Regions from separate parts of the Homo sapiens genome. Here region 1 is linked to region 2. The links come from fine-mapping of genetic effects on gene expression. A gene starts in region 2. The other region holds a variant in brackets. All regions are shown on one strand. Distances are between the middles of the regions. Region 1 overlaps ADPRHL1 (ADP-ribosylhydrolase like 1). Region 2 holds the start of ADPRHL1 (ADP-ribosylhydrolase like 1).

Evidence for each region. PIP is the estimated chance that this variant, and not a neighbour inherited with it, causes the effect.
Region 1: its variant is fine-mapped to the expression of ADPRHL1 in monocytes after LPS (Quach 2016, PIP 0.95).

Annotation. Positions count from the first base shown.
Region 1 is chr13:113,393,510-113,409,026 of GRCh38, forward strand. ADPRHL1 (ADP-ribosylhydrolase like 1) reads right to left here. Exons shown (of 8, transcript NM_001394807.1): 8 at 6,102-14,711. The coding sequence ends at 9,869. Among named protein-coding and RNA genes, the nearest start is that of GRTP1, 37 kb to the left of the region's middle. RefSeq lists enhancers at 1-495, 11,871-12,665, 13,783-14,468 and silencers at 413-762, 773-882, 4,525-4,819. The variant A/G (reference allele first, on the strand shown) is at 6,935.
Region 2 is chr13:113,447,063-113,462,579 of GRCh38, forward strand. ADPRHL1 (ADP-ribosylhydrolase like 1) reads right to left here and starts at 6,426. Exons shown (of 8, transcript NM_001394807.1): 1 at 6,162-6,426. The coding sequence starts at 6,375. It overlaps DCUN1D2 (defective in cullin neddylation 1 domain containing 2), which reads right to left. Exons shown (of 7, transcript NM_001014283.2): 5 at 13,992-14,074; 6 at 12,250-12,346; 7 at 8,757-11,046. The coding sequence ends at 10,967. RefSeq lists enhancers at 2,097-2,456, 4,458-4,959, 8,956-9,886.

The sequences.
Region 1 (15,517 bases), 54 kb before region 2:
CATATGGCCACACAGGCCTCCACCTCTACTACCCAGACAAGTGCCCCAGTGCGCATCACACATGCACATGGGTGTGTACACAGCCTGCCCAGACACAGCCCTCCACAACACAGGGACCCACCCATGCACACACGCGTGTGCACACACACCAAGCAGACACGGCCCCTACACAACACAGGGACCCACCCATGCACACACGCGTGTGCACACACACCAAGCAGACACAGCCCTCCACAACACAGGGACCCACACATGTACACACTAAGGAAATGTGGAAACACTACGTGACCTCCGGTGGCAAGGCCATGGCTGGAAGCCCTGCAGCCTCTCCGGCTTCCAGGTCCTGATGCCAAGGCTGCCCCTCCCAGAATCCACGAGGAGGTCACCGTCCCCGCTCCGCACCAGGGAGGGGCTCCAGAAGCCCGGAGGCCAGCGCCGAGGTCCCCGCACGTACGCCTGTGTCCCCGGCTCTGGGGAAGGCAACCGTCCCTTAGGGGGCCGGGAACCTGCGCGCCGCCCCGACTCCCGCCCACCCCGGCGGCTCCCGGCGGCTCCCGGCGGCGTCCGGATGTGGCAGCAGCTCGCGGGCCGGGGCTTCCTCTTGCAGCAGCCGCCGCCCGGGAGGCCGGCAGCGCCCCCTGGCGGACTCAGGCAGGAGGCGTCCGGCGAGGCGGGCGCGGGGTAGGCGGGCGCGGGACGGTGCAGCCCGAGGCCTGTCCCTGCAGGTGCAGGAGGGACCCGTCGCTCCCCTGCGCACCGAGGGGGCGACAACCCCTCCCAGAGACCTGCTGCCCGCGGAGCCTCCCCCAGTGACTCGTGCGGTCCCCAAAGGAGAGGCGGGAAGCCGAGTCCTGGAGAAGCCTGGAGACAATGGGCAACAGGGGCATTGGGCCTCCGTCCAGCCCCCGCCAGCGCCCCAGGGTCACACATAGGCCTTTATTTTCTGATCCTGAAAGTGATGCAAGTGCATTTAAATTAACGCAGAAAGCAGTGACAGATAACGACGGGAAAACACACCTACACATCGGGTGTTCGTGGATAACCACTGCTCACCTTTTTTCGCGTTTCTCTTTCTTTGCCCCCTTCACACGTATTTACATATTTGAATCTACTATTTTATACTGGATTTTTTTTTTCTTTTTGAGGTGTAGCTTCACTCTTGTTGCCCAGGCTGGAGTGCAATGGCGCCATCTCGGCTCACTGTAACCTCTGCCTCCTGGGTTCAAGCGATTCTCCTGCCTCAGCCTCCTGAGTAGCTGGGATTACAGGCGTCCGCCGCCACCATGTCCAGCTAATTTCTGTATTTTTAGTAGAGATGGGGTTTCCCCATGTTGGCCGGGCTGATCTCGAACTCCTGACCTCAGGTGATCCACCCTCCTTGGCCTCCCAAAGTGCTGGGATTACAGGCATGAGCCACTGCGCCCGGCCTTATATTGGATTTTAAACATTAAATGGTACAATATTTTCCATTTCACAAAGTTCTTCCTCAGCTAATTTTAAATGACTGCTATTTCACTGAATAAGACACCACACTTTATTTAACTAATCTCTTTTTTTTTTTTGAGAGGGAGTCTTGCAATGTTGCCCAGGCTGGAGTGCAATGGTGTGATCTCGTCTCACCGCAACCTCCGCCTCCTGGGTTCAAGCGATTCTCCTGCCTCAGCCTCCCTAGTAGCTGGGATTACAGGTGCCCGCCACCACGCCCAGCTAATTTTTTGTATTTTTAGTAGACACGGGGTTTCACTGTGTTGGCCAGGCTGGTCTTGAACTCCTGACTTCGTGATCCGCCCGCCTCGGCCTCCCAAAGTGCTGGGATTACAGGCGTGAGCCACCGCGCCTGGCCAACTAATCTCTTAATTGGTGGACATTTGTGTCACTTATGGCTGTATCTTGAGTAGTACCACGCTGGACAGATTGCTTTTCCTAAATACAGTTTCTCAAAGCTGGAATTGCTGGGCTGAGGAGCCACCCCTTCTAAAGGTTCTTGACATTATTGCCAAATTGCTTTATAAAAAGGAAGGGCCAATGTTTGGTCCCATCAGGAATGACTGTCTCCGTACATCCTCAGAGGTAGTGAGTGTTACCGATTCCTTTTAAAAATTGGGGGTTTTGGTTCTCAACTTGATAGACCCATGAGAGTTCAACTTCATGTCTTTGACCACCACGCACGCAGTATGTGGTCCGATACGGCACGTCCACCGTGGATGTTGATGGGGACAGCCCCGTGTGCTCCAGTATGTGGTCCGATACAGCACGTCTGCTGTGGGTTTTGATGGGGGCGCCCCTGTGTGTTCTTTTTTTTTTTTTTTTTTTTTTTTTGAGACGGAGTCTTGCTCTGTCGTCCAGGCTGGAGTGCAGTGGCACAATCTCGGCTCACTGCAAGCTCCGCCTACCAGGTTCACGCCATTCTCCTGCCTCAGCCTCCCGAGTAGCCGGAACCACAGGCACCCACCACCACGCCCGGCTAATTTTTTTGTATTTTTAGTAGAGACGGGGTTTCACCGTGTTAGCCAGGATGGTCTCTATCTCCTGACCTCGTGATCCGCCTTTCTTGGCCTCCCAAAGTGCTGGGATAACAGGCGTGAGCCACCGCGCCCGGCCCCCTGTGTTTTCTTGAGTGCAGGGGGCAGAATCCATCCTGGGGAATTTGAGCAGAAAGGGACATGGTGAGCAGTGTGACAGCTCCCAGCTCCTTGCAGGACTAGAGGAAAGGCCTCCAAGCCCAGCTCTGCACTGGCTAATGAGCTTCCTTCTCTCAGCTTCCCTGGAAACATCTTTCTCTGCACACCCAGGAGACTCCATATCACCGGCTCGTCCTCACCGTGGGCCCAGAACCTGCTGTGCCCTGCCGGCCTGGGGAGGTTGCGTCTCCCTGGCAGAGCTGCATGCGTCCCAGCAGCAAGGAAGGCTGGGGATGTGGGATGTGGGACTGCCGTGCAGAGAGAAGACAGGATTCATGTTGTGGGGAGCTGTCAAAACGTAGAAAAATAGCCCCACTTTTGGGGCTCCCATGAAAGACTGGGGTCTTATTCATATGTTTGAGCCCCTTTGGAATTTGAAATGAAGCCGAGTTCCCTTCCTAACGACACAGAGCTCGCAGAAGCCGCCTCTTCTCTTGGGCGTCCACCGTCAGCTCTTTCTGGACTTTGTTCTTCCTGTATGTGTGCGGCTTCCTGCCGTTATCAAAGTCCAAGAATTTCATCAGTTTCTTATTTTGTTTTATTTTTTAACATTTTATTCATTTTTTTTTAAGATACAAGATCTTGCTATGTTTCTAGGCTGGCCTCAAACTCCGAGGCTTACGTGATCCCCCCACCTCAGCCTCCTGAGTAGCTGGGACCACAGGTGCTGCCACCGCACCCGGCTTCTTGATTATTTTATCATCATCATTATTGATTGAGCAATGGAAATCTGTAACTTATTTGGTGCTTTTTTTGGGTTCTTATTTCTTCAAGATTTGGAAAATTCTTCCCTACGTGCAGATTTGCTGGTGGGTTGAGCGCCTTCTTCCAGTTGGGGATTAAGACATGACTTCCAGTGGTACAGGCCGTAAGGAAACAGCCATCCAGAGAATTCAACAGCTCTTTCTCCGCTCTTCAATACAACATGACCTGTGGTCTTTTGTTCTTTTATTTTTTATTTTACTTTCATTTTTAAATAGAGACGGGGTCTCACTATGTTGCCCAGGCTGGTCTGGAACTCCTGGTCTCAAGTGGTGAGAAACAAACTCATCTGTCCAAACCCAGAAGAAGGACTCGGAGACCCGGAGGAGAGTGAAAGGGAGACTTTCTTTCTTTCTTTTTTTTTTTTGAGACAGAGTCTCGCTCTGTCACCCGGCTGGAGTGCAGTGGCGTAATCTCGGCTCACTGCAACCTCTGCTTCCCGGGTCCAAGCAGTTCTCCTGCCTCAGCCTCCTGAGTAGCTGGGATTACAGGTGCACACCACCACACTCAGTTAATTTTTTTATTTTTAGTAGAGACGGGGTTTCACCATGTTGGTCAGGCTGGTCTTGAACTCCTGACCTTGTGATCTGCCTGCCTCAGCCTCCCAAAGTGCTGGGATTACAGGCATGAGCCACTGCACCTGGCTGAAAGTGAGACTGTTGATGATGGTCTTGCAAGATCGGGTGTCTGATGGGCAGCCACAGCCAGCACAGTTTCAACAAATAATTTATCCCCTAGTGCACAGGTGTCTCCCCGGGTTCCTCACAGGCTGAGTACTCTGGGGTCACAGTCTTCTGGGACGTCACCTATTGGTTGTTGGGCAGGGGCTGTAGGTGTTTTTTTTAGGGGTGTCCTGTTGCATTTTGTTGCAGCCCACAATGCATTGCAATCCCAGTCAGCCCAGGGGCTCTTCAAGTATTTGACTTATGACCTAAGTAGCTGGGCAGGCTGATAAGAACAGACAAAGCCAGCTATTTTGCAGGCTAGTAAACTGTTATCTTAGACTAAACTTCTTTAGTTCAGGTGAGAGCACCTAAGGGCCGGGGGGAAGGGAGGGAGAAGGGGAGGCCGGCAAGCAGGCACTGGCGATCCAGGCAGGGGCCTCGGACCTCCTGTTTCTTCTGTAGTTTGCTGACTTAAGCCGATTCAAGGCACTTTGTCTTGGAAACGGACCACTGTAGACACTGTTGCCTTCACTCCCCGCTTGGCCTCCTTTGTTCTTCTAGGAGAAGATGCCTCGGCACTTTCACGAGTTTGGGGTGTGCACAGATGGGGCTTCTAGTAGGCTCCTGTGCCTTCGAGTGGCTTCCCAGACACCGCCTGGGGTTGTGGACCTGAGCCAGGCCAGTCCTCTCGCTGTCAGAGAAACGGCGTGCACTGCTCAGCTGCTCAGTCCTGGGCTTTGGGGGCTACGTGACATCCATTCCTGTCAAAAATCCATGGCGGCCATAAAGATTCAGCAAATGCACCGACGCTCAAACAGACAAATGTCCCGGCACTTCCTTTTGTGGTTGGGGCTTTTTCTTCTGTTCAGGGAAACATTTGTCTACCCCAAGCTTATAACAATATCCCAAGAATGGGGTTTGATCAGACTTCTATGTACACCAGTCTCACAGACGCCCTCAATAAGTGCTTTTAAAAGTTCTAGCCGGTCGCAGAGGCTCACGCCTGTAATCCCAGCACTTTGGGAGGCCGAGGCAGGCGGATCACGAGGTCAGGAGATCGAGACCATCCTGGATAACGTGGTGAAACCCTGTCTCTACTAAAAATACAAAAAATTAGCCGGGCGTCTTGGCGGGCGCCTGTAGTCCCAGCTACTGAGGAGGCTGAGGCAGGACAGTGGCGTGAACCCGGGAGGCAGAGCTTGCAGTGAGCCGAGATCACGCCACTGCACTCCAGCCTGGGTGGCAGAGCGAGACTCCGTCTCAAAATAAATAAATGAAATAAAATAAAATAAAAGTTCTAATGAAAGCCTGTGTCATAGCTTAATTGACAGGGGTTTTCTTTCAGGACAAGAGGTGCCTGCACCATCCCAAAGCCTCGGCTGCCGGGCCAGTGCTCTCAGACACGAGGCATCAGCTCGTTTCAGTGGAACAAGCTTTCCTCCTCACAAGATGCCAAGAACCCGCGCCACCCACGGGCACAGCAGGGGTTTGGAATGCAGGCATTCCCAGCTAGGTCTGGCGTGAGCTTAAACCACCCGTTGTTAAATCCTCATGAAAAGTCACTTACAAAGTTCTCCTGCATACAGAGTAGTGGAGGGCAGAGGGTGTCTCACAGGCCTGCTGGGCCCGTTGCACCCATACTCCTTCCCTCCCTTCTGTCCAGTCTCCCTCCGTGTCCCAGAGGACACCCCAGCCCTTTGGCCCCCCGCGGCCCAGGTGCAGTGGCCGAAGTCCAGCTCCCTGGGTCTTGCTCCGAGGCCGGCACAGTCTTGACTGGACCAAGAGAGGGTCTGGGGAGTGCATGGCCTTGTCTCTCTAAGCACATCCTAAGGAGTTCTCCTCCCACTTGGGGCCTTGCCCCAGACCCTCCCTCCTGCCCAGGATCACTGCTCCAGGCTGGCCACATTCACCCGATGGGGGCTCTGCCCCTCGCCCCAGGCCTGAGTCCTACTTCATTTATGCGGCTGCTTCAACAATGCAAGGAAGAGATTTGTAATGGGAAAGGTATTTTATTTCTTTTTGAAATTATTTCCAGCTGAATGATGTTAGTAAAAATACAGAGAGAATACAACAAATGACATTTAGTAATTTTTTCTGACTAACCCATTTTAGGGTTGTTTATATACAAAGAAGAATATGAACAAGAACAAATTTAATAAATAGCTGTAGCCTAATACACAACCGAAAGACCGTAACTCCAACAGCAGAGATACCCTGAGAACAGAATAAGGAGGTGGTGCTGAGCGTGTAAAATCCCAGACAACGACCCTCCCTGAGCGAGTGTCCTGAACATGACCACATTCTCGTCGCCGTCTCGGGACCTTCCTGCCGCCTGAGTGCACCGCCTCCCGCCCGGCTGTTGTCACTTGCACCCACAGACCTGCGGCTCACAGTGGGCCTGTCGACAGCCGGAGGCACCGTAAAAAACTGCAGGGAGGAGGCAGTCAACGAGTCGCTCAACTACACAAAATTAATGATGTTAACTAAGAAGCTAAAATAAATATCCTGTTTTCTTTTCTTTTCTTTTCTTCTTTTTTTTTTTTTTTTTGACGGAGTCTCGCTCTGTCACCCAGGCTGGAGTGCAGTGGCGCAATCTCGGCTCACTGCAAGCTCCACCTCCCGGGTTCACGCCATTCTCCTGTCTCAGGCTCCCGAGTAGCTGGGACTACAGGCACCCACCACCACGCCCGGCTAATTTTTGTATTTTTAGTAGAGACAGGGTTTCACTGTGTTAGCCAGGATGGTCTTGATCTCCTGACCTCGTGATCTGTCTGCCTCGGCCTCCCAAAGTGCTGGGATTACAGGCATGAGCCACCGTGCCCGGCC[A/G]CTTTCTTTCTTTCTTTTTTTTTTTTTTTAAAAAAACAAAACAACTTTGGGTTTTATTTAAAATGCCCGTGGAGGTGGTTAGCGCCCCATTCTTCTGCTGTAGTTATTTCACCCCGGGAGGGTGTGGGCCTTAGCCATGTGGCCGTGATGGTCGTATCTGAAGTGTGAATACTTCCCCGCGCTATCTTCTAACCTGCGCTGTCTCAGCTTAGTGTGAACGTACGGACCGTTCTCAAATCCTGGTGAAGTCACTGGCAGTTTTTTCCTGCACACAGAGTAGCTGTGCTGTTTTTGAGCTGAGGGCAGTGTCATGCTGGGCTGCATCTGGCACATGGAGAGGACGGGCCAGTCGAGCAGGTGGCCTCCTGGCCGCTCACAGACTCTGCGCCCGCCAGACTGTGAGAGGGGTTCAGGCACGACACTTCCGGAGCTGTCATCTGGAGGAGATTCTCATCATTTTTTCCACCACTTAAAATAAAACCACTCAATGCCTTCTCCAGTGTACTCTCTGGTCTATTTAAAAATAGCAGCGCAAGTCCCACCACTTCTTATTTATAAAGGGAACAGCCAGTGAACATATTTTTACCTCCCGTGTCTGTCATCATGTTCTTGCCACTCATTGCCTCCAATTCCAAATAGGTAAAGAGTGAGGGCCGTGCCGCTGTGCCTGGAGTGGCAGGGGCAGCCACACAGACCTGGGGGTCCCTGAGCTCCCCCAGCTCCAGGGAGGACGCCCCAGGCATGAGCAGGGGCCGCCAACAGGACAAAGAGGCCACTCTGTCAGCCTCTGCTGGACCCCTGAGCTCCCCTCTCATGGGCCTCTCCGTTTGGGTGGCTCCGAGAGGCCAACTCCAGCCCCAACTGCAGGCTCCCAGGACTGCAGGGGCAGGGACTCTGGAGGTCCGTGTGCTTCGTGAGAGAGGGGACCCTGTCCTCCTAGCAGGGGTCCAGCGGCACCACAGCAAGACTTCTGTGGCCAAGTACACGCCATGCTCAGCTCTGCCCCCACCCGCACCCCCGGACCATCCTGTGTGCAGCTGGGCTGCCCCGGGACCCACACGCGCGAGGGGCACCCGGTGCTCAGGAGCCTCCACACACAGCAGCTCGCACTTAGAACCCACACGCCAAGCAGAAACCCCTCGAAGCGGGCTGGGAGCACGGACCCCTGATTTATAGAGGAGGCCCCGGGGGCCCTGTCGGGGGAGCTGTGGGGACCGGCCCCCCAGAGCTCAGCACAGCCCGGCCCTCCTTCCAGACACCAGCACTCGCATGTCCCAGCAGGTGAGGGTGGGTCAAACCTGCTGGATCTGAAGTTAATTGTTCGACTGGAAGGAAACCTGTGCGCTCCCCGGAGCATGACGCCACGCCGCCTCCTTGGCGCTGCAGAGCCAAAGCCACTGGCGTCTGCCGGGATGGACCTTCCCTGGAAGGAGAGACCTCAGCCCCGCGTGGGTAGGACGCGCCTGCTGAACGCCCTCTCAGGGCCGACACTGGAAAACACCTTCCTCTAAAGGAACATCCGAGTCAGAAAACAGGTGCTCGCAGCAGGCACCAAAGCGCCTTTGCGAACGCTTAGGGCTGTTTCAGGAAACCGCTCAGTAGCAAAGGCAGAAGATGCCAAGACACCTTCAAAAAGCAGGAATTAACTTTCCACAGGGAGGGCACCACCAAAAACAAGGGTGCGGGGCTGTAGGGCGACAGGCTGCATCGGTTCACGCTGAAAATCCAGCTGCTCCGGGGCCACTCAGGCAGCCGTGTGGCCTCACGGGTCCGGGTTTCAGAGGCCACCGAGTGGCCTGGGACGATGGATCGCGACACGGAGGTGCATGGCTCCATCATGGGGAAGAATGTGCTTTAAAATAGGTGCATGGAGGAAGAGCCTAAAAAATAGTCCAGAGTAGCAACAAAAACCATCTCGAGGCAATGTGACCACAGGTGGCTTTGATTTCCTTCTTGTGCCTCTAGACAGCATTCAAATATTCCAGCCTGAACATGCATTACCTCAGTACCTGAACAGGGCCGGAGTCGTGGGCCGTCTCGGGCCAGGGCAGGAAACACTTCTATGCTGTTCGGGAGGACGGAGGACAGACAGCGAGGCTCTCAGGTCACCGGCACCAGTGGCACCACCCACAGGGACTGCAGGGAAGGGCGGGCAGGCTCCCGTTCGTTCTCCCAGCACCCAGTTTCCAGACGAAGCCTCCCTGGGATCCTGGCTTCCCACGGCTCTGCACTGTCCCTTTCTCAGAACTTAACGTGGGCATTTCCTGAGGCCTCTTCCTCCGGATGAGCTGGTTTCGGCCTGGGATCCCAGCGTCCCCACACCCTCTGGTGACCACCACATGGCCCAGCAGCCACACAGCACCCGGCACCCACCTGGGCGTCTGAGGCTGGAGGAAGCTCTGCCCTTTCTTTCGAGTCATGGGGGTGGGGCGGTGTGCATCACTTTGGGCCCATGGATGGTGGGTGCCATGCGGCCACGTCAGAGCAGGGCATGGTGGGGTGTGGGCAGGGAGCAGTGGGAGGTGGCCCTGTGAGAGCTGGGGAGGTGTCCCAAAGTGCCAGCATCCTGCAGATCGAAGGGGACGCACACACCGTGCCACTGCGGGAGGTGTGAGCTCCACGCTGCAGGCTGTGTGAGAGAGGGGTGAGCCGGCGCCCCCGAGTGAAGACACAAAGAATCCCGAGGGCCTGGTGAGGCCACAGGCCCGCACCTCCCACCCCCATGGCCTCGTGGCTCTGTGGGGTGACAGGAACCCGACCCACATGTAGCTCAATCCTCCCAAGGTCAGCTTGTGAAGAAGGGAAAGAAAATTATGGAAACAGGCGTCTCTGTAGGGGATGCTCCAAGACGCATTTGGAGGCAGGAAAATGCCTGAAGTCCCTCAATGGGCGGATGTCACAGTGCTGGGCGAGCCACGGTGTGTACTCGGGGCCTCACTTTGGGAGCTCAGACGTGTCGCTGGCCCTGACGCTCATTGGTCTGAAGGACAAATCGAAGGCCCTCTGGTCACGGAAGCTCTGGGCTTTGTACTTGGCCAGGTGCCTGGACCTCCCGCGACGCTCGGGCTCCGATGCCTCCATCCTGTCCTGCAGGGCCCTCTCAGCCCCAGGGTGGTCTGGGGACCCCTCCTGGGCCGGGGCCTGGGGAGTCCCGCAGCCCCCAGCCTCAGGCTTGGGCTCAGTTGGGCTCTTTCCCAGCCCCAGGGGAGAGGTGGCAATGCTCTTGCCCCTGAGGGGGCGGCTTCCTGGGGGTGGGTACCCGGCGCTGGGCTCCCCCAGGCCACTGCCCCCTGACTGTCCACCATCCCTGGGGGCTGGGCTTCTGGACCCCCCACTCCTGCCAGCAGCATCCACTCCCTCAGCTATGCCACTAATGGGCTGCTCCCAGGCCCGAGGCGCCATCCCACTTGTCAAGGCCTGTTCCCGACCCTGTTCCCAAGCCCGTTCCTGAGCCCCTTTCTGGGTCTGCCTCTGAGTCTCTATCTGGGTCTGCTCCCAGCCCTGATCCCGAGCCCGATCCCGAGCCCATTCCTGAGCCCCTTTCTGGGCCTGACCCTGAGCCTCTATGTGGGTCTGCTCCCGACCCTGTTCCTGAGCCCGTTCCTGAGCCCCTTTCTGGGCCTGTTCCCGAGCCCGTTCCTGAGCCCCTTTCTGGGCCTGTTCCCGAGCCCGTTCCTGAGCCCCTTTCTGGGCCTGTTCCCGAGCCCGCTCCTGAGCCCCTTTCTGGGCCTGTTCCCGAGCCCGTTCCTGAGCCCCTTTCTGGGCCTGTTCCCGAGCCCGTTCCTGAGCCCCTTTCTGGGCCTGTTCCCGAGCCCGTTCCTGAGCCCCCTTCTGGGCCTGACCCTGAGCCTCTATCTGGGTCTGCTCCTGAGCCTGTTCCTGGGCCCGTTCCTGAGCCCCTTTCTGGGCCTGACCCTGAACCCGTTCCTGAGCCCCTTTCTGGGTCTGTTCCTGAGCCCATTTCTGGGCCTTTATCTGGGTCTGCCACTGGGCCTGTCCCTGAGCCTCTTCCTGGGCCCATTTCTGAACCTCTCCTTGAACCTGTTTCTGGGCCTGTCCCTGAATCTGCCCCTGAGCCCATTTCTGGGCCTGTCCCTGAACCTGTCCCTGGGCCCCACCCTGAGCTGGTTCCTGTGCCTGCCCCTGGGCCTCTATCTGGGTCTGCCACTGGGCCTGTTCTTGAGCGTGTCCCTGAGCCTGTCCCTGGGCCCAATTCTGAAACTGTTTCTGGGCCTGTCCCTGACTGTGTCCCTGGGTCCCACCCTGAGCCTGTTCCTGTGCCTGCCCCTGGGCCTCTATCTGGGTCTGCCACTGGGCCTGTTCTTGAGCGTGTCCCTGAACCTGTCCCCGGTCCCATTCCTGAACCTGTTTCTGGGCCTGTCCTTGGGCTGCCGGGCTTCCCGGCCCCTCGGGCTCCCCTGGAGGCACAGCTGGGTTCCTGGCAGCCCTGGTGCCCTCTCCCCACGCCGTGCTCCGCCCCCGCTCCTCCCAGGGTCCCTGCAGATGCTGCTGACCTTGGTCACTGCGCTGGCAGGCGCCCCCAACCCCAATGGCCATCCCTTTGTCCCCGGCCAGATCCTGTGCCCACCATGTCTGAGGCTCTTTTGCTGGGTTCAGCACAACCTTCGAGCCCGACGGCGCCACCCTCTTCCCCGCATCCCCGGGCTGGGGGGTCTCCTCCTGTGCCTGGTGACTCTGTTGCCTCCCCAGGTCCGCCTGTGTCAGGGGACGCTCCTGGGATTCACCTGCCTGCGTCCTAGGCTCGGGGACACTGGCCCGGAGCTTTGCCTGTGTGTCACCAGCAGTAGGGGGCAGGTGTGCCTGTAGATGGGGAGGGCCCCGCTGGTGGGTGCCACCTACCCACCCCATGTCCACCTCCGCGGGAGGCACTGCGGGAAGCAGATGGTCAGGCTCCGCCCCACGGGGAAACCTGACGCCCTCCCTGCCCTTTGCCTGTGGGTTCTCAGGAGGCGACGGCGGGAGGCCAGGGCCATAGCTGGGGGACTCTGCCACGCTCCTTGCCTGTGGCCTAGGATGATCAGAAGCAGGAATTCCAGACTCTGTGCTGAAACCCAAAAGGTTTCCTTCCACAGCCACATCCTTTCTGCCTCCTACAGCTGCTGTATGTCTGCTGGCTGCTGATGTGTTTGAAATGTATAATCGGGCCGCCTCTGGGTGCCGGGCGAGGGCCGCAGCATCCTCCGGGTGGCGGGCGAGGGTCGCAATGTCCTCTGGGTGCTGGACGAGGGCCACGCCTCTCAGGAGGCTCCTCCCTGCTGCTCCACTCTTGGGCTCCAAGGATCCCCCAGGGGCCAGGAGGCCGTGGCTGTGAGGGTCTCGAGGGAGAGCCTCTCCTCTGGGGTGGCTTTCGGACAAGGCTCTGCTTCCCCACTGGCCCAGCGTCTCTGGCTCTCCCGCTGTGCGGTCTCCAGGGCTCTGGGTGCTGCCTGGCGCTGGTGCAGGCGTGGCGCGGCTCGCAACGCTCCCTGCAGCTGCCATCGCCCCACAGGCTTTCATACCTGGTTTGGGTGGTTCATTTAATGAGGACAGTGGGTTCTCGCGAACATCATGGCTGGTGATTTCCTCGGCAGCCTTCAGGGGCTGAGAAGACTCTATTAGCAGCGGCCTTCTGCATTCCTCCAGCGCACCGGGCACTGTCATGCCCATCGGGGTGACACCCTCAGGCCCCGTACGCCCCTTGGATGATGCCGCCAGTGACGTGGGGGCTCCTGTTGGGTTTCTCCCAGTCGGGGACGGCACTTGCTGGCTGCTGGAGGCATGGCTGGTGTTTCCCCTCAGAAGGTTTTGTGAGGCTGCAGGATCATTTGTTGCGGAGCCCTTCTTCTGCATTGATATTTCATTAGATTCCGGCAACGGATGCTTCACATCTCTGAGCTCAGAGGTCCTCTCTCCTGAAATATCGTCAGGATTCCTGGGACCGTGTGAATTCTCAAAGCTGCCTTTGTTTTCCTTCCCGCCAGCAGGATCTGTCTGGAGTCTCTGTGTCAGAAGTGTCTCTGGGACACTGTGGTCGGCGCCCACAGCCCCTCTTGCTGCTGCCAGACGCGGAGCTGCCCGTGGCCCCTGCGGCGAAGAGGCGCTGAGTCCCGCCTGCATCCCTGAAAGCTTGCTCAGTTCCACTGGGGCTCGGTGACCCCTTCTGTTCTCAGTCACGGTGGGAAATTCTGTGTGGGCATTTTCAACCACATTCTCTCCTCCACAAATACAAGGTTTGTTTTCACCACTTGACATATTTTGCAGCCTGGTGGGAGGGGCTGGCATTTCATGGACAACTGGAATTTGGACAGTTATCCGTGGAGGCTCCGTGGCAGGCTGTGTTCTCCGAGCAGCCTGGACCGATGGAGCGTTCAGGGGTGGGATGTGCTCCGGCACCTTCTGTTCTGGGAAATACTTCTGGGTGGCAAAGAGGGGGTCTCTCCCTGGGTCTGGGAAGCCTGCTCCTTCCCTTTCATCCTCTGAACTGCAAACAGTCATGGTGATTTCAGGGCCCTCCCCTGCACACTCGCCTGGGGGCCCAGGAGGCCACGTGAGCCTGGCTCCCCTCACCTCCTGGACGCCTCCTGCGGTGCTCTCTGCGGTGGGGTCTGCAGTCCCATCACCTCCGGCTGATCCGGTGCCCCAAGGGCTGGCCGGTCCCAGTGGGGATGATGCAGGCACAAGGCCAGGAAGGACTCCACCTGTGCAGGGAGCACAAGAGAAGGCCAGCGAGGGGACAGCGTGGCCGTCCCTCTGAGCCATCACCTGGGGTGTCACGGGCTTCGAGGGCCTTGGCTGTCTTTGGGGCTCCTCCTCCAGGGGCCCCTTTCCCACTGCTTTGTTCCCACTGGGCCCCGTCTCCCTGGCACTAGGGGGCACGCTGGCTTCTCCTCTGGGTGGACGCCTTGCCTCCGAGTGGCTGATTTTGGTGCAGTGGGACAGCCAGCTCCTGGGGCCACAGACGACGGTGGCGATGCTGAGGGCCGGCAGGGGCTCAGCCGTGCAGGCCAGAAAGCGGGCAGGGGGCATCTTGACGCAGGTGCTGGCCATGGTGGCCGTGTGCAGCACGCGCACCTCCGGCCGGTGCATCCTCTTCCTCTGCAGGTTCCTCTTCTTCCGCTCCTGCGTGTGCAGCCTCAGCGCACTGGCCTCGGAGCACAGGCAGCTGTTCTGCTCGAACTTCTCCCGCAGCTTGGACAGCACCGAGCTCTTGCCCATGATCTTCGGCAAGAGGCCCCTGGCGGCTTTGGGCCGCTCCACAGGGGGCTTCTCGCGTGCTTCTTTCTCCTTCGCCTCCTTCTCCTCGGCGGCCAAGAATATCTTCAGGATGTTTTTCACGGTGCTCTTCCCGGCCGGGTGGCCCCAGCGGGGCTTCTCGCTGAGGCAGGGCTTTGGGGCCGGCTCCTTGGTCTTCTCCAGGAGCTTGTTGATGGTGGCACCCACGAGGCCCCCACCCGGCCCCTGCTTGTCCTTGGAGATCAGCCGGCCCACCTCCCTGGTCCTCTTGAGGTAGCGCTCCCGGCCAGTGCCCAGGAACTTGGCCTGCAGGAGCTGGAAGCGCGTGGGCCGCTGGGTGGCCTCCTGGGTCTGGGGCTGGTGGCTGGGCCTGCTCCCCCCGGCCTCTGTCCCCGGGGGCCGGTCTGCGCGGCCCGTGACGTAGAGCAGCAGGCTGCTGAGGATGGAGTGGGCGGCCGGGTCACAGGCCAGCTTGCCCATCTTCTTCTTCAGGGTTTGGGCGTCCACAGACATGACGTCACTGCAGGTCTTGCTGCTCTTCCGGCTGCAGAGAAAAAGGAATCATCACCTACTTCATCATCATTTTTCTCCAAGATGACTCTATAGAACATTTATCATGGGGCAATCCCACCTTTTCAGGGGCCCCAAAAGTCTGGTAGGGAGAAAAAGAGATTAGGAGCCAGGAGCTGTGGCTTCTGGGCTGTCTCTGCTGTTAATTCGGGGTTGGCAGGGATGCCAAAGCTTTTCTGGGTCACTGTTTCCTGTTAAATGGCAGGAACTTCTGACACACGCTCCTCCTAAGGGCATTGAGGAGTTGACATTGAACAGTTTAGTGAAAGCGTTTGGAAAACCACTTTGCATATGCAACATATTAAAAGAAAATTTTAACAAACATACTTTGCTTGTACAGTAGGTAAAAAAGCACATATAAAGAAGTGTCTATTCTCTGTGTGGACTGTGTATGTCTCTACCTTTAAGTATGAAAGATAAAATTAACAGCATATTTAAATTCTGCCATGATCCCAGGGACCTGGGTCCCTACAGCAGAGACTGAAGATTCAGCAAACCGCTCAGGCTTGGGGTGGGCGGAGAAGGCAGAAAGAGTTTCCTCACAAGCTCCTGGGCAGGAACCAGCACTGCAGTGGGCAGTGCCCACCAGGAGCAGGGGAGGAGGGGGCTGCAGAGAGGAAGGGAGGAGGGGGCTGCAGAGAGGAGGGAAAGATGGGGCTACTGAAAGGAGGGGAGGAGCGGGTTGCAGAGAGGAGGGGAGGTTGCAGAGAGGGAGGAAAGAGGGGGCTGCAGAGAGGAGGGAGGAGGGCTGGGATCACTTGGCTGGGTCTCCGGAACCCC
Region 2 (15,517 bases):
GGTGTCTACATGCATGGTGTGTGTGCATGGTGTCTACAGTCACGGTGTTGTGTGTGCATGGTGTCTACATGCAAGTTGTATGTGCATGGCGTCTACACTCACGGTGTTGTGTGTGCATGGCGTCTACACGCACGGTGTTGTGTGTGCATGGCGTCTACACGCACGGTGTTGTGTGTGCATGGCGTCTACACGCACGGTGTTGTGTGTGCATGGCGTCTACACGCACGGTGTTGTGTGTGCATGGCGTCTACACGCACGGTGTTGTGTGTGCATGGCGTCTACACTCACGGTGTTGTGTGTGTATGGCGTCTACATGCAAGGTGTTGTGTGTGCATGGCGTCTACATGCACGGTGTTGTGTGTGCATGGTGTCTACACTCATGGTGGTGTGTGTGTATGGTGTCTACATGCACGGTGTTGTGTGTGCATGGTGTCTACACTCATGGTGTTGTGTGTGCATGGTGTCTACACTCACGGTGTTTTGTGTGCATGGTGTCTACATGCACATTGTATGTGTATGGTGTCTACACACATGTTGTCTGCACACATGGTGTTGTGTGCATGCACAGTATTGTTTTACATGACGCCATGTTCATCACCCCAGTTCTGAGTCAGGGAGGAGAGAGAATGTGGCAAGACTGTGGTTTGGGAGACACGAGTCCTGCAGTCTCATAGGAGAGGTGTGAGGGCTGCATTCCTGCAGGAATTAAGGTCACCTTCGCCTGCACCCGAAACCCCTGGATGGGGGTACAGCTGCGTGGCTTTGTCCAGGCTGTGTCTAAACCCAGTGTGTGCCCCTCACAGTCACCGGCACAGTGGATCCACAAACAGCCTTTCTCAACTCAGTCCTGGGTTAACAAGCCTAGCCCTTCCTGAGTCCCCTAAAAGGATTCATTTTATTCTGGAATTAGACATGAAATGTCTGTATTCAACTGAAATTTAGCCTTTTCAAAGCAAACAGAAGCCATAAAACAAAATGGCACAAACAGCATTGTCTTTTCAGGTTAGAATTTAAGCGAGAAACAGATTTTCAAAGCTGCTACCCTTGGGCTTCTCCCCGGGTCTCTTTCCTTTGGGACACTCCACTCCTGTCTCCTGTCTTCCCTGTCTGGTCTCCTGAAAGACAAATCAGTTTCTAAAGCTGCCTGAGGGGCCGGGTGCAGTGGCTCACACCTGTAATCCCAGCACTTTGGGAGGCTGGGATGGGCAGATCATAAGGTCAGGAGTTCGAGACCAGCCTGGGCAACATAGTGAAACCCCCGTCTCTACTAAAAATACAAAGTTAGCCCAGCCTCTCAGGAGGCTGAGGCAGGAGAATCGCTTGAACTCAGGAGGTGGAGGTTGCAGTGAGCCGAGATCGCGCCACTGTACTCCAGCCCGGGCAAAAGAGTGAGACTATGTCCCAAAAAAAAAAAAAAAAAAAAAAAAAATGGTGCCTGAGTCTCCCAACCCATGTCTCAATAAAGAAAAGGCAAAATACTAACATCCAGTGATCTTGTAGCAAAATGTCAACTGTTTCCAAACGTTTTCTGCCATGAGCTGAAGTGCCACTCCCAGTTATCAGGGCCCCGGGAGAGGCTGAGAAGGTGCTGGCCCTGTGCCCTGGAGGCTGTGGCCAGGTGACACCTCCCGCCATCCTGCTGGGCCCTGAAGTTGGCTGAGTGAGCCTCAGGGCAGAGACATGTCAGATGTGCCTTCGGCCACACGGGCCTGCACCAACTTCCCACACTGGCCTAAGTGCTTCCTCACACTTTGCTGGTTGCTCCGTTTAATCCTCTGTGACCTTGTGAGGGAGGAAGGCCCTGGGAGGGAAGCCACTTCCCCAGTTTTCCCAGGGAGTGGGGGTAGGGAGCTGGGAATGGCCAGCTGCATACCCGAGCAATGGCCGAGCTCTCTGTGCGAGGCCGCCCCTCCCCAGGCCTGGCACACACACACACCTGCTAAACGCTTGCCAAGTGACTTGGTGATAATGCGCTGGCAACATGGGCTTGTCGTTTCAGGGCCATGGATGCCACCTCTCCTATGTGTCTTGTAGAGCGCTAGACACGGCTACTTCCTGGTTCAGAGTCTGCTCTCGTGCCCTGTTCAGAGAGGCTCACCCGGAAGGAGGCAGCCCCAGTCAGAGAGGCTCACCCGGAAGGAGGCAGCCCCAGTCAGAGAGGCTCACCCGGAAGGAGGCAGCCCCAGTCAGAGAGGCTCACCGGGAAGGAGGGACCCTGTTCAGAGAGACACACCCGGAAGGAGTGAGCCCCGGTCAGAGAGGCTCACCCGGAAGGAGGGAGCCCTGTTCAGAGAGACACACCCGGAAGGAGGGACCCTGTTCAGAGAGGCTCACCCGGAAGGAGGCAGCCCTGTTCAGAGAGACACACCTGGAAGGAGTGAGCCCCGTTCAGAGAGACACACCCGGAAGGAGGCAGCCCGGTTCAGAGAGGCTCACCCAGAAGGAGACAGCCCTGTTCAGAGGCTCACCCGGAAGGAGGGAGCCCCGTTCAGAGAGACACACCCGGAAGGAGGCAGCCCGGTTCAGAGAGGCTCACCCGGAAGGAGGGAGCCACACAGGCTGCCCCGACCCTCAGACCTGTGCTCACTCTAGCAGCAGAGCCAGGGTTTGCCAGACCACACAGCCCCGTGGCTCGTGGGGTGAAGGACTTTTCAGTGCAGCTTACTTAAAGCTGCCAAACGTAGTTCCATTTGTAAAAGTCTGCCTGTCTTTGGAAAGCATGCTGAAGAGCCCCTGCACACTGCAATTGTTAGGATACCTGCAGGCCACCGTGATCTCAGCAGTCAGGGAGGATGCTTACGAGCACAGGGGCCAGATTCTCTGGTTCCCGTCCAAGCTCTGCCACTCGCTGGGCTGTGTGGCACTGGGCAAGCGCCTGAACCTCTCTGTATGTCAATTTTTTCTCCTGTAAGATTGTGATAAAATCAGCCTCCACGGTGATGTGAGGAGCATGTGTGGAGGATAACATGCGTGAAGCAGCTGGAACAATGCCTGGTACAGAAGTGCTGTGGAGTCAGCACTCACCATTGTCGTTTTGTAGAGATGGAGTCTTGCTATGTTTCCTAGGCTGATCTAGAACTCCTGGGCTCAGGCAATCTGCCCACCGTGGCCTCCCACAATGCTGGGATTGCAGACGTGAGCCACTGTGCCCAGCCCTCACCATTGTTAACACAGCTTAAAGACCCCCTTCCATAGGCTACAATTTGTTATTTAAAGAACAAAGATAAACTTAAGTGAAATTTCGACTTTGATTTTTAGTGAGTTGAAAAAAATCTGCTTGCTTTGGTTTCTAGAGGGGTAAGCTGTAGGGACCAGCCCCACAGGGTCGGTGGGTCTCTCCCTGTGTGCAGTGACGAGAGAGTGTAGAAATAAAGACACAAGACAAGAGATAAGAGAAAAGGCAGCTGGGCCCGGGGGACCACTACTACCAATGCACGGAGACCGGTAGTGGCCCCGAATGTCTGGCTGCACTGTTATTTATTGGATACAAGGCAGAAGGGGCAGGGTAAAGAATGCGAGTCACCTCCAATGGTAGGTAAGGTCATGTGGGTCACGTGTCCACTGGACAGGGGGCCCTTCCCTGCCTGGCAGCCGAGGCAGAGAGGGAGAGGAGACAGAGAGAAAGACAGCTTATGCCATTATTTCTGCATATCAGGGACTATTAGTACTGATAGTACTAATTTTTCACTAATTTACTACTGCTATCTAGAAGGCAGAGCCAGGTGTACAGGATGGAACATGAAGGCAGACTAGGAGTGTGACCACTGAAGCACAGCATCACAGGGAGACGGTTAGGCCTCCGGATAACTGCGGGCGAGCCTGACTCATGTCAGGCCCTCCACAAGAGGTGGAAGAGCAGTCTTCTCTAAACTCCCCTGGGGAAAGGGAGACCCCCCCCCCCTTCCTGGTCTGCTAAGTAGCAGGTGTTGTTCCTTGCCACCTTTTGCTACTGCTGGACCACGATCCGCCTGGTAACGGGCGTCTTCCCAGACGCTGGCGTCACAGCTAGACCAAGGAGCCATCTGGTGGCCCTGTCCGGGCATAACAGAAGGCTCGCACTCTTGTCTTCTGGTCACACCTCACTATGTCCCCTCAGCTCCTATCTCTGTATGGCCTGGTTTTTCCTAGGCTATGATTATAGAGCGAGGATTATCATAATATTGGAATAAAAAGTAATTGCTACAAACTAATGATTAATGATATTCATATATAATCATATCTAAGATCTATATCTGGTATAACTATTCTTGTTTTATTATACTGGAACAGCTCGTGTCCTCTGTCTCTTGCCTCAGTGCCTGGGTGGCTTGCCGCCCACAGTAAGCAATTCCAGGGGTGATCTTGGATGCGTATTTTCTCATGACCCACAAACTAGACGCTGCAGCAGCACAGTGAACCCTCCCTTCCAGTCCACAGCTGAGGACCCTGAGAGCTTAGAGCAAACTTACTTCCTCCTTAAGAATAGCGCCCCATGGTGGCTCACGCCTGTCATCCCAGCACTTTGGGAAGCTGAGGTGGGTGGATCACTTGAGGTCAGGAGTTCGAGACCAGCCTGGACAACGTGGTGAAACCCCGTCTCTACTAAAAATACAAAAATCAGCCGGGCGTGGTGGTGGGCACCTGTAGCCCCAGCTACTCAGGAGGCTGAGGCAGGAGAATCACTTGAACCTGGGAGGTGGAGGTTGCAGTGAGCTGAGATCACGCCACTGCACTCCAGCCTGGGCGATGGAGAAAGACTCCGTCTCAAAAAACAAACAAAAAACAGTGCCCTAAACGTCCGTAACCCTTTTAACTGTGTGAATTTCGTGTCCTGTTGGGCCGATCTCCGTCGGTGCACTTTTGGAGTGTCCTGTGCCGCTGCCCTCCCTGCGGGCCTGGCAGGACCAGACCCACAGCCATGGACGCTGCCATTTACAAAACGCCCACCAAGTGCTACCAGAAATGGGACATGCAGAGCTGGTATGAGCGCACACACGGCATCAGACGCCCAGAGGAAGCCAAACTCAAGAGTGAGCTCCAGCCGTCTACGGTGAAAACAAGCCGGAGCTGTGTCCCACAGGTGTCTGTGTGTGGGGTGCACCTGTTCTGGGCTGCGGGGCACAAGCATGGGGTTGCTGGTCCTAAGGGCACACGAGTGGCCGCCTGGAAAACCAGAAGCAGGAGCTCCTGGACGCCAAGGCTGTGAACAGTCGGACGCCTCCCCGTCTCCAGCAAGCCGGGAGCCTTATCTTATCGCCGGCGCTTCAGCTCTCCCGTTATTTAGGGACCGGCCACAGGCTCGATGGCATTCCTCTGCTGTGAGCACAGAACTAAACTGGGCACGTCCATGGCAGATGAACAGAATGGTGGAGTGAACGCATAAGTGAGATTTCATTGACTTAGCTGCAGCCCTCAGATTTTAATTCTGCCATGATAAACAGCACCCACGGGGTTTTGAAGAGCAAATGCCTCGTAGGAAAGCTGGACTGCATGTCTGTGCACCTGCCATTTCCCTGAAATTCATGCAAAAGCTTGATCCTAAAATCAATTTGCTACTTAAAGGTATTTTAAGAAGCTTTGTCTCCAATCTCGTCCAATCAAGTTTATGTCATTTTCTTAGAACACATTTGTGTATGGGCAACTCTCCAAGCTGAACCATTTTGGGAGATGATATTCTAACTTTAATTCATTGGAATTTAGAACTAATCCCCAAACAGTATTAATGGGTTCACATTTCAAACTGGCTTATTTTACATCCCTTTGTAATGAATTCAGAACAAGAAGGCTTAATCTCTGCAGCGAGAAGTGAGCCCTCACCCTACTCCCACCAGCACGGCCGAGAGAGGCTTCACTGGCTTTAACTCTATTAGAAACAGAAGGTGCTAGGCCTAGTTAACGCTTTACAAATACAAGTGAAAAGTCACGTTTAAAAACTGAATCTTAATAACTGCAAAGTAAAGTAATACTGTCACCCTCAGAGAAACCACAGGAGAAACGTGATCTGCCGCATATCAAATTTGAGGGACACTCAGATTAAATTGCCACTTTTAGCAGCGGTATCAGGTAACACCATCCGCTGAAGGACCGCACTGCCTTCAAAGCTCTCGGAGGCTTACTGGGAGAACTCGAGCAGCCAGTGTTCCCTCCAGCCCGCACACCGGAGCGCGGTGGGCCCAGCCTACCTGTGGTGAGGGCCTCGGCGGTTGCGATGTGCATGATGGTGTTGTCACTCACGGGCCATTCTCCTGGCGAGAGTACGAGGTGGTCCAGGCCCCCGGAACGTTGCAGCTCCTCCTGGATCTTCATGCCTACAGTGCTGTTCTCCTTGCAGACATTTCTGTAGCCAAGAGCATCGCCGACGCTCCCCAGCAACATCGCAGCCTTAAATTTCTCCATCCCAGGAGGCAGCTCCTCTTCCCCAACAGCTGCGGAGCGTCCTGGCCTTTGTCTCCTCCTCAGCCCGCCTGACTTTTATAGTGGTCACTGTGTCACTGTCAGGAGCGTCCTCTGATGGCCAGGCGCTCCTTGTCTATCTCTGCAGGTGGCACCAATGAGAGGACCTTTCTGTCCCCCACGTGGGAGGTGTCAGTTTTCTTCTGCGTCTGGACAGGCACCAGCTCCTCAGCAGAGGAGCCTGCTAGCTTCTGCCGGCAGCCGCAGCACATTCAGAGCGTTGACAGAGCAGGGGCTCCTCTCGCTGTCCCTGGAAGGAGTGCGCACACTTCCCCGTGTGTGGCGTGGGGTGATGCGGGAGCAGATGTGTGCAGGCGTGCCTGTCACTGCCGCCCGCTGCGGGGCGTGCCCTCACCCCTCGGGCAACAACCCATCTGCTGTCTCTACAGTTCTGCCTTTCCTGGACATTTCAAATACAATGTGTGGCCTTCGGTGTCTGGCTTCCTTCACTCAACATAATGTTGAGATTAATCTGTGACATGCGGTTTTATCATTTAGAAAACTTTTCGATTATGAAATGTGTTTTTGATAGAAAACTTTTAAAAAATGCAGTGTAGAGGGAACAAAGTCTATCTAGCTCCTGTGTGAACAATGACGGTGTCTTCTCAGCATGCGGTGTTTAACGGCTCCCAAATAATTGGACTGCACTGAGGGGGAAAGTCGTCAGCAAACCGCAGGCTTCACTAGAACCTCCCATCCGGCCCTCGGTCAGCTCAGTGTATTTACATCATCCCTGCTAGCTCATGAAAAGAATATTAAAAAATATGGAGACGGGGGGTGAGGCAGAATGCACACAGCCAGGGTTCCTGGTTTGAAATAAATTAGGAAAACAGTCCATCTCCCGACCCCACCCCAGGACAGTTCTCCGCAGAGGCCGGGAGCCCAGCAGGGCTGTGTCTCTCCCGTCTCCTTCCTCGGGGCCTGGTTTCCATCAGACCCAGGGGAAGCAAAGAGTTACACCTGGACTGAAGAAATGCGTCTGATAAAAACTCTCGTAGTGTACAGCGAGACAGTAGGAAGCATTTAACCGCCTGGCGTTATATCAGCACTTGTTAAAACGGAGGATCTCAAGCAGTGAGTTCACCTCACCCTCCACTGTCTGCTGGTGGAGGCAGCCATCAGCACAGTCATGCCAGCTAGCATGATCCTGAGATTCAGAAACAAACTTCAAAACCAGCATGCAGGCCGGGCGCGGTGGCTCATGGCTGTAATCCCAGCACTTTGGGAGGCCGAGGCGGGCGGATCCCCTGAGCTCAGGATTTTGAGGCCAGCCTGACCAATATGATGAAACCCCGTCTCTACTAAAAATACAAAAATTAGCCGGGCATGGTGGTGGGCACCTGTAATCCCAGCTACTTGGGAGGCTGAGATAGGAGGATCACTTGAACCTAGGAGGCAGAGGTTGCAGTGAGCCGAGATCACGCCATTGCACTCCAGCCTGGGCAACAAGAGCAAAACTCTGTCTCAGAAACAAACAAACAAACAAACAAAACTCCAAAACAAAAAACAGCATGCACGCAGGGTCCCTATCCAAACAAGACAGACAGGAGGGGCGGCCCTTCGTTCAAACTCTCACCTGTTTTAGGCACAACTGCACTGTGGGGCCGAAGCGTGTGCTGCTGAGGGGATTAACACAGCCCGCTCGCTGAGCGCTTCAGTTCGCAGGCGGCGGAAACCTTTGCCAAGAGCACTAGCTGGCTCCCTCAGCAAACAGGACGGGATAAGGTTAGCTCGTTTATCCAACAAATATTTGCAGAGCCCCTACTTTGTACCTGAAACTGTGGACACAGCAACAAGGATCAGAAGAAAGTTTATTCTTGGCCCCAAGAAGCCTGAGGTCTAAAATGGATATAAACTTCAAGCGAAAATAACACAATGACATGTACAATGTCACTGAGAGGAGCTGGCGTTGTTGATTCCGGAACGCTGGCAGGTGCACCGTGAATCGGCAGGTAGCACATGATCCTCAGACCCCCGTGCTTGGCCGTTTGCCTCCGATAAGGGACGGTTTCCAGCAGTTTGTGCTGGCACACATGACCTCCTGCCCCGACACACTCCCGTAAATCCTGCCTATTGTGAGATCTCTCATTCCTCACATGAGCCACCCCATCAGGTGCACGGTGCACCGCTGAGAGGCAACGCAATGACAGAAGGTACCTGAGGACCTGGTTACCTGGCCAGGGCTGGCGGGCCACACACGGGGGCAGGGGCTTGCCCGCTGGTTGCTAGCTGGGGGCTGTTCTCTCATCCTGGGACAATGACGTGGATGCTGACACCTATAGGCAGACATCCCTGCAGCTGAGGAGAATCGAAAGGAAACCACGCCCGAGAAAAACCAATTTAATGCTTCTGTTCTCAGCATTTCACAGCATGCAGGACTCAAATGGATACAACAGAAGAAAAAAACCCACAATTTTTGGAAAAGCCTTTGTCCAATGATTAATATTTTGATATCTATTGACAATCCCTTAGAACTTTAAATCTCAAAAACAAAAAAGTACTGTGGATCTCCATAGTTTATACAGAATTATGTGAATTCTATAAACTTTTCTGAACAAAACAATTACATGTCAAGAATCCATGAAGCCTGGAAGATACGCTCACGTTTTTGAGGTTTGTATTAATGCCAGTTTTTATTGTATTAGACAAATGCTCTCTGAGAATCGAAGACTTCTAAAGGTAGACAGGCCCAGTTTCCCATTAGAGTTCTGGAAGCAGAGCCTGGGGAAGGTCTGTCACTTGCCCATCACTGGACCAGCCAGAAGCCAGCGGGGGCCAGGCGGGGTCTGCAGGCTGCAGGTCCCTTCCAGTCCTGTCCCTGCTGCCCTCTGTGACCATCTCTGCTAAGAAACATCGACAGTTCGTCCTGCAGCCTCCAAGCACACTAACCTCAGCCATCAGATGTTCCTGAAGCCCAGGGTAAGTCCTGTTCTCAGAAGCCAACCCAGCTGCTTGTCTGGGCCATGCTCTCTCACACCGCAGCTAGGTCATCTGCGGCGACTCTCCTCTGTGCTGGGCAGCAGCTCCAGCTGGTCCACGTCCTGCACAGTGCTGCAGGGGGGCAGCAAGGCACGCCTGTGACATGAGAGTCTCGGCACGTGAGGTAGGGTCAACAGTGATGTCCACAACTCAATACCAGCCCTCCACACCTCGGCAGCACTCGTGGGTCCTCCTCAACCAGGCGGACACGAGAAACAGATGATAACATGGTGCAAGGACAGACTTCAGCTCACCAATCAGATGAAGGTTTTGGGGTTGGGTTTTTTCAGACAACGATGTACATTTTAGCTTCCAAATGTGCACAGGGGCACAAAGGTCTGGATGCTGGGCACTACGGGTACCACAAGAGGATGGAAAGAACCAGCTCATTCGGTTTTATTGTATGTATGTATGTATTTATTTTGAGACAGAATCTCACTCTGTCGTCCAGGCTGGAGTGCAGTGGCGCGATCTCGACTCACTGTAACCTCCGTCTCCTGAGTTCAAGCGAATCTCCTGCCTCAGCCTCCTGAGTAGCTGGGATTACAGGCATGTGCCACCATGCCCGGCTAATTTTTGTATTTTTAGTAGAGACAGGGTTTCACCATGTTGGCCAGGCTGGTCTCAAACTCCTGACCTCAGGTGATCCACCTGCCTCGGCCTCCCAAAATGCTGGGATTACAGGTGTGAGCCACCACGCCCGGCCTTGATTTTAAAATCTATAATTCATCACTCATAAAATAAATGTTTTTCATGGAAAAATGTCTTTTTAAATGTAATTAAAATATATTTTAAAAAAACATACTTTATGAAGCTTCTCAGGCAGGTCAAATAATATTTAAGTAAGAGAGGCCCAGTGATATATAAACGGTGTGAGATAAACTCTGCTGGAATCGTGCCACGTGTGCCGTTGCTATGCAAAGCTACATGGGGATTGAGAACCATAAAATGATTTTCAGATGAATGTCTAGAGAAAATGAAAACAAAAATAGAGCTGGTAAATCTAGATATTTGGTAATTCAAAAAATATAAATCGTGAATTGCTGGCACCAATTTTAAAAAACATTAGACTCTACGACAAGATCCTCTCCCTTAGGGCACATTCTTAACAGCTTTGACGTGTATAAAAACGCAGCGCCCTGCAGAGGACACATGCCGTGTTGCCAGTGCCACCGCAACGTCATTCGGCGGGACGCTGCCGGACGCTGGTTCGCCTGACGCGCGAGCTACGCAGCATGCTCTGCGGTCCCACAGGCGGCGCTATGGCTCTACCTTAGTATTTTGTAAATATTAAAAAATCATGCAGAAATTTCCTAACGCAAAAGCTATGATGACAAATCTCCAAACATCCCAAAGCAGCCGTGTCCCGAGGAACTTCCTGCGGTGTCCACAAAGCAGCCGCTGGCTGTCCTCCGGCAGAATGGGATGGCGCCTCTGGTTTCATGGCTGGTCAAGAATGACTTCTGGAATCAGCGACAATGCACCCAGGAACTGACTGCAATCTCCTTGCAGGATACAAATCATTTCATAATCTTACTCCTGCTTAACTTGCTGCCTAGAAAAGGCTGCGTTTTCCACCTGTGACTACTGGCCGTGCATATTCTACAAAATCATCTATAAGAACGGGCCAAGCTCCTAAAGGAAAGCAAGCAAACAGAAAACCCGTTAGAGCACCGTTTTTATCTCCAAAGCACTGAGTCACACATCAATCCAACATTTACACTTCAAGAACCCAAATGACTTGAGGTCCACACCATTTGTGTTTCACAGAATGAACCAGCCCAAGTTACCCAGTTCTTTCGCCCTAGCACGGCCAGGTCGGGAGCCCTGGTGTGTGTGTGCTGGCATGTCTAGGGGGCTGTGGGCTCACAGTGGCCCCGGATGCTCGGTGAGTGCCCCAGGCAGTCACACCAGCTGCTCAGGAAGGGAGCTAAATGGACCCCCGCGGAGCAGGAGGCATGTTCCTCAGGTCATTGGTATTCTTGCCAGCAGGGGGTGCTCCCTCCTGCGGCTCTTCCCAAGTGGGACCACCCCATTGCTCCCTTCCCCACCCCGGCAGCCCTGAGTGCCCTCTGAGCTCCTGCACTGCTGCCTCAATCCTGGAAGCCGCGCTTCTGTCAATGAGATTCAGTGATCCCTTCTTTCATTTGACAAGCATTTACTGGGTGCCCCTGATCTAGGGACGGTGCAAAGTGTGGAGGACACAAAGAGAAGCAGAAGCTAAAACAGGCAGACAGACACGTAAACCACCCGTTAAAGGCACGGCGCCAGGGCCCAGAACAGATCACTGCCCGCCGAGGGGGCAGGGAGGAAGCAAAGTGGGTGGGAGCCTAGAGGGGAGGCCTTCCACCCAGAGACCATCCCTCTCTAAGGTGGCAGCGTGCCCAGCACACAGCAGGCTCCAAAGGCCCTCCAACGCAGAGTCCTAAACACGGGGGGAGACAAGTATGTGGAGATATATTTATGCAAGAAGACAGGAGCTGGAATCTCCGAGTCAGCCTGAAGAGTGCAGTGTGGAACTGACCTAAGGCATCATGCGGGACTGAGAATCTGGGAGTGGTGGTTTCCCAATACCTAACTCCATGGCTCCACCATGGGGGTCTCTAACTCTTCACATCCAATTCTGAAATGCTTTGGCTTAGAGGACTGTCTTCTTGATTTACACTAAATATAAAACCCTATTTTTCTTTTGTATGATTTACAGAAAATAATAAGGAAGGGGGTAGTATTATGACCACGCCCATCTCAGTGACGGGGTCACCACTCTAGAGGCAGGAGAAGTTAACGTTCTCAGGTGTAAGCATTTCGGTCAATCATCTGAAGCACAACTTCCGGTACCTTCTTCATCGTAGTTAGACATATCATCCGCAATCATGTTTCCAAAGTCCAGCAGGAGGTTCCAGGTGTCCCTTGGAATTGATCTTTTGTGATGTTCCTAATATATGAGAGAAAAAAAAAACCCACCAGGTTTAAAATACAGAGCTTAACTCTCATATATTCTAGTGGCCTAGCGATCTTCAATTAATGTTCATTAATTTGATTAGGAACAAGTACAATAAAATTGTTAAAAGTAATAGCGTTCTGTATAAATGTTAAGTGCTACAACAACGCTAATGTCCAAATATAGAAAGCAGATTTATTTAAGAACAAAACATTTTAAATATTACAATTATAAACTCCTGTTTTGTCACATAGAAGGGCAGCATTTTAATCTCGTTACCTGCCCATTAGCTGCATGTATATATATATTCACGAACAGCTCATAAGCTTGTCTTACATTTTAAAACATTAACTGCTATCAAATTACACATAGTTTTCTGCAACTTGTTTTTTTCCCACTCAGCATAATGTCTGAAACGTATGCGGGCTGACGTGTGTGAATGTGCGTTCCTTTGCGTGGCTCCAAAGCCGTGCTCCATCGCACCAATATTCTGATTTTTTAGTCCGTTCTCCTGTGGATGGTCACTGGCTTTTCCAGTATTCTGCCGTTACAATGACACTGTGAGCGCCTTCATCCCCTTCTCCACGCACAAGAGCGTGAGGTTCTCTGGGAAACATCTGTGACTTAGGTTTGACCCCAGGTAAGGCGTAAGGGGGCTGTGGGCACAGCATTACTGACCTCTGGATATTTCGAGAGAAGTAATACAGCACATGATGTAATGAAACACATAGCTGCAAAGACGTCTCTCCATGGCAAACCCACAGGACTGAGTGACGTCACCTTCCACAGACAGCTCCGCCCTCCACCTGCCACACTCTCTGGGTACCATTCCCAGGCAAGGAAGCGGAAGTGACGTGCCCAAGGCCACAGGACTCTAAGTGGCAAAGTCTGTGTCACCTGGTGTCAGGTGAAGGGAGGCAGTGCGGGTCCTGGCCCGGCCGTGGGTTGGGCGGTGGAAGACCACTTCTTTCACTTTCATGGACAGAACAGCAAGAGGTCTGGGCATCTCTGCCATTACCGGGCTTGTGGCCACTCACTTCCAAAAACCCACAGCTGCACCTGCTGCCAGCAAGACGGGCTGGCATGACGCAGCCTTGCCCCGCACCAGCAAAGTGTCTCTCCAGAGGGTCCACAAAGGCCTCTTTTCCTCCTGAGCATGGTGAGACACACTTAGAAATGGCTTCAGACCACAGACACACACAGAGGCTGGGCACCGCCACATACAATCCGCAGTTCCGGAGCCCAAACCAGTCCACAGAAGTGTGGCGCTGGCACCATGTCGAGGATTCGGAGTTCTCAGTGGAAAGACAGAATTACCGTCTAGGTCCTCAGAGGAGACAACACGGGGGCTGCTGGGGTTGCAGAGTCTCCAGGAACCCCAGCCTGAGAGGAGCTTCCCGTGACTGCCAAGAAGCCACGTTCTGAGGAGGCCCCGGAGTGGCCCCAGCTCAGCCCTGCAGTCTCCGGCAAGGTGACAGAGCCAAGTGGCAACCTGTCTGGACCTGCGGATCTTTGTGTGGGATGTTCATCTGCTGAAAACCTCCACGTGTGAGACCTGAGGTGGATGATTACATGCAGCCTCATACCTACCGACTTCCCTCCACAGTGGGCACACAGCGAGATGCAGGAGGACACTTACCATTAAGAATGTGTTCCAGAGATCTAAAAATTTAAACCTTCCAGATAACACTAATTTCCAATACGCAACAGCCATTTCTAAGTCTGGTAAAAAGAAAGAAAGAGCAGTTAGTAAATCTCACTCTCTTTTTCTACTGCACAAAAAACGACCACTTCTTAGCATGTCAATATTTACTTAATAAAATGTGGCAATCTCACCCAAGAGTCATGAGGCTTAATCTCTACGGAAGTGCTCCTGAGAACTGTACGTAGTCTAATTTTATAAATCTGGGGAAACTCTTTTTAAAAGGATTTGTATATTAAGTTATTTGGATATGCACACAATTCCCCCCTAATTAATCAGTTTTGGAGACTTGCCTTTTCACACATATTGGGTGTTCTTTAAACCTGACCTGATCTGGATACTATTAATGCGTATCATTTGTTTTTAAAAATAGGCCACTGGCCTGAGTGTCGAACTGCAAATCAAAGGACCAGTTTAGGAAGGAAGGGACACACTGTTCTCCAAATAGACCTGCCTTGTTGCTATATGAACTAAGACAGAATCTGTTTCACAAGTAATTACAGCGGCCTTATGAGGGCTCCAATTTGTCCCTAAAGTGTCAAGTCAAATCGGCAGCTAGCAGGGAAAGCGTTCTCACTGATGCATCTACACAGGACACTGCGTATCAATCAAAGCCAACGCCCTCTTTTCCCACACGGGAAGGTGGTGATTATTTCACGACTTCTATATAAATCTCTGCTACTGAAGATGTCTAATAGAATATGAATGCCGAGTTTCAGGGCTGTCTCCAATCCATAGTTTGTGAAACACTGATTTATTCTCTGCTCACCAGAAGCTTGATAACGATTTCTTTTTATATGCTTGACACAGCAAGTATATAAAGGGGTTCAGAATTCTATTTTTTTAAAGTGACCGGCCGGGCGTGGTGGCTCACGCCTGTAATCTCAGCACTTTGGGAGGCTGAGGCGGGTGGATCACCTGAGGTCAGGAGTTTGAGACCAGCCTGACCAACATGGAGAAACCCCGTCTCTACTAAAAATACAAAATTAGCTGGGCGTGGTGGCTCATGCCTGTAGTCCCAGCTACTGGGGAGGCTGAGGCAGGAGAATCACTTGAACCTGGGAGGCGGAGGTTGTGGTGAGCCGAGATTGCGCCACTGCACTCCAGCCTGGGCAACAAGAGCGAAACTCCGTCTCAAAAAAAAAAAAAATTAAATAAATAAATAAATAAAATAAAAAATAAATACATAAAGTGACCTCCTTTAATCATGTTGAATAGTGTTCACCACTTTTAGGCAATAAAAGAAGAGTTATATTTATGTAAGATTAATGTGAAAAGCAGATTAATAAAAGTTAGGTAATATGTTAGTTTAAATGCAAAGTACATAACTAAACACTTCTCAAAAGGTTTTTTTCTAAATCTGGTTTAATCCCACTTAAACAGAAGTTATTAAAGTTGGAGCTGTAGCAAGATTTCCAGGGTCGATCATTATTAAAATGGGATAAGAAAGAGGCATATGAGTA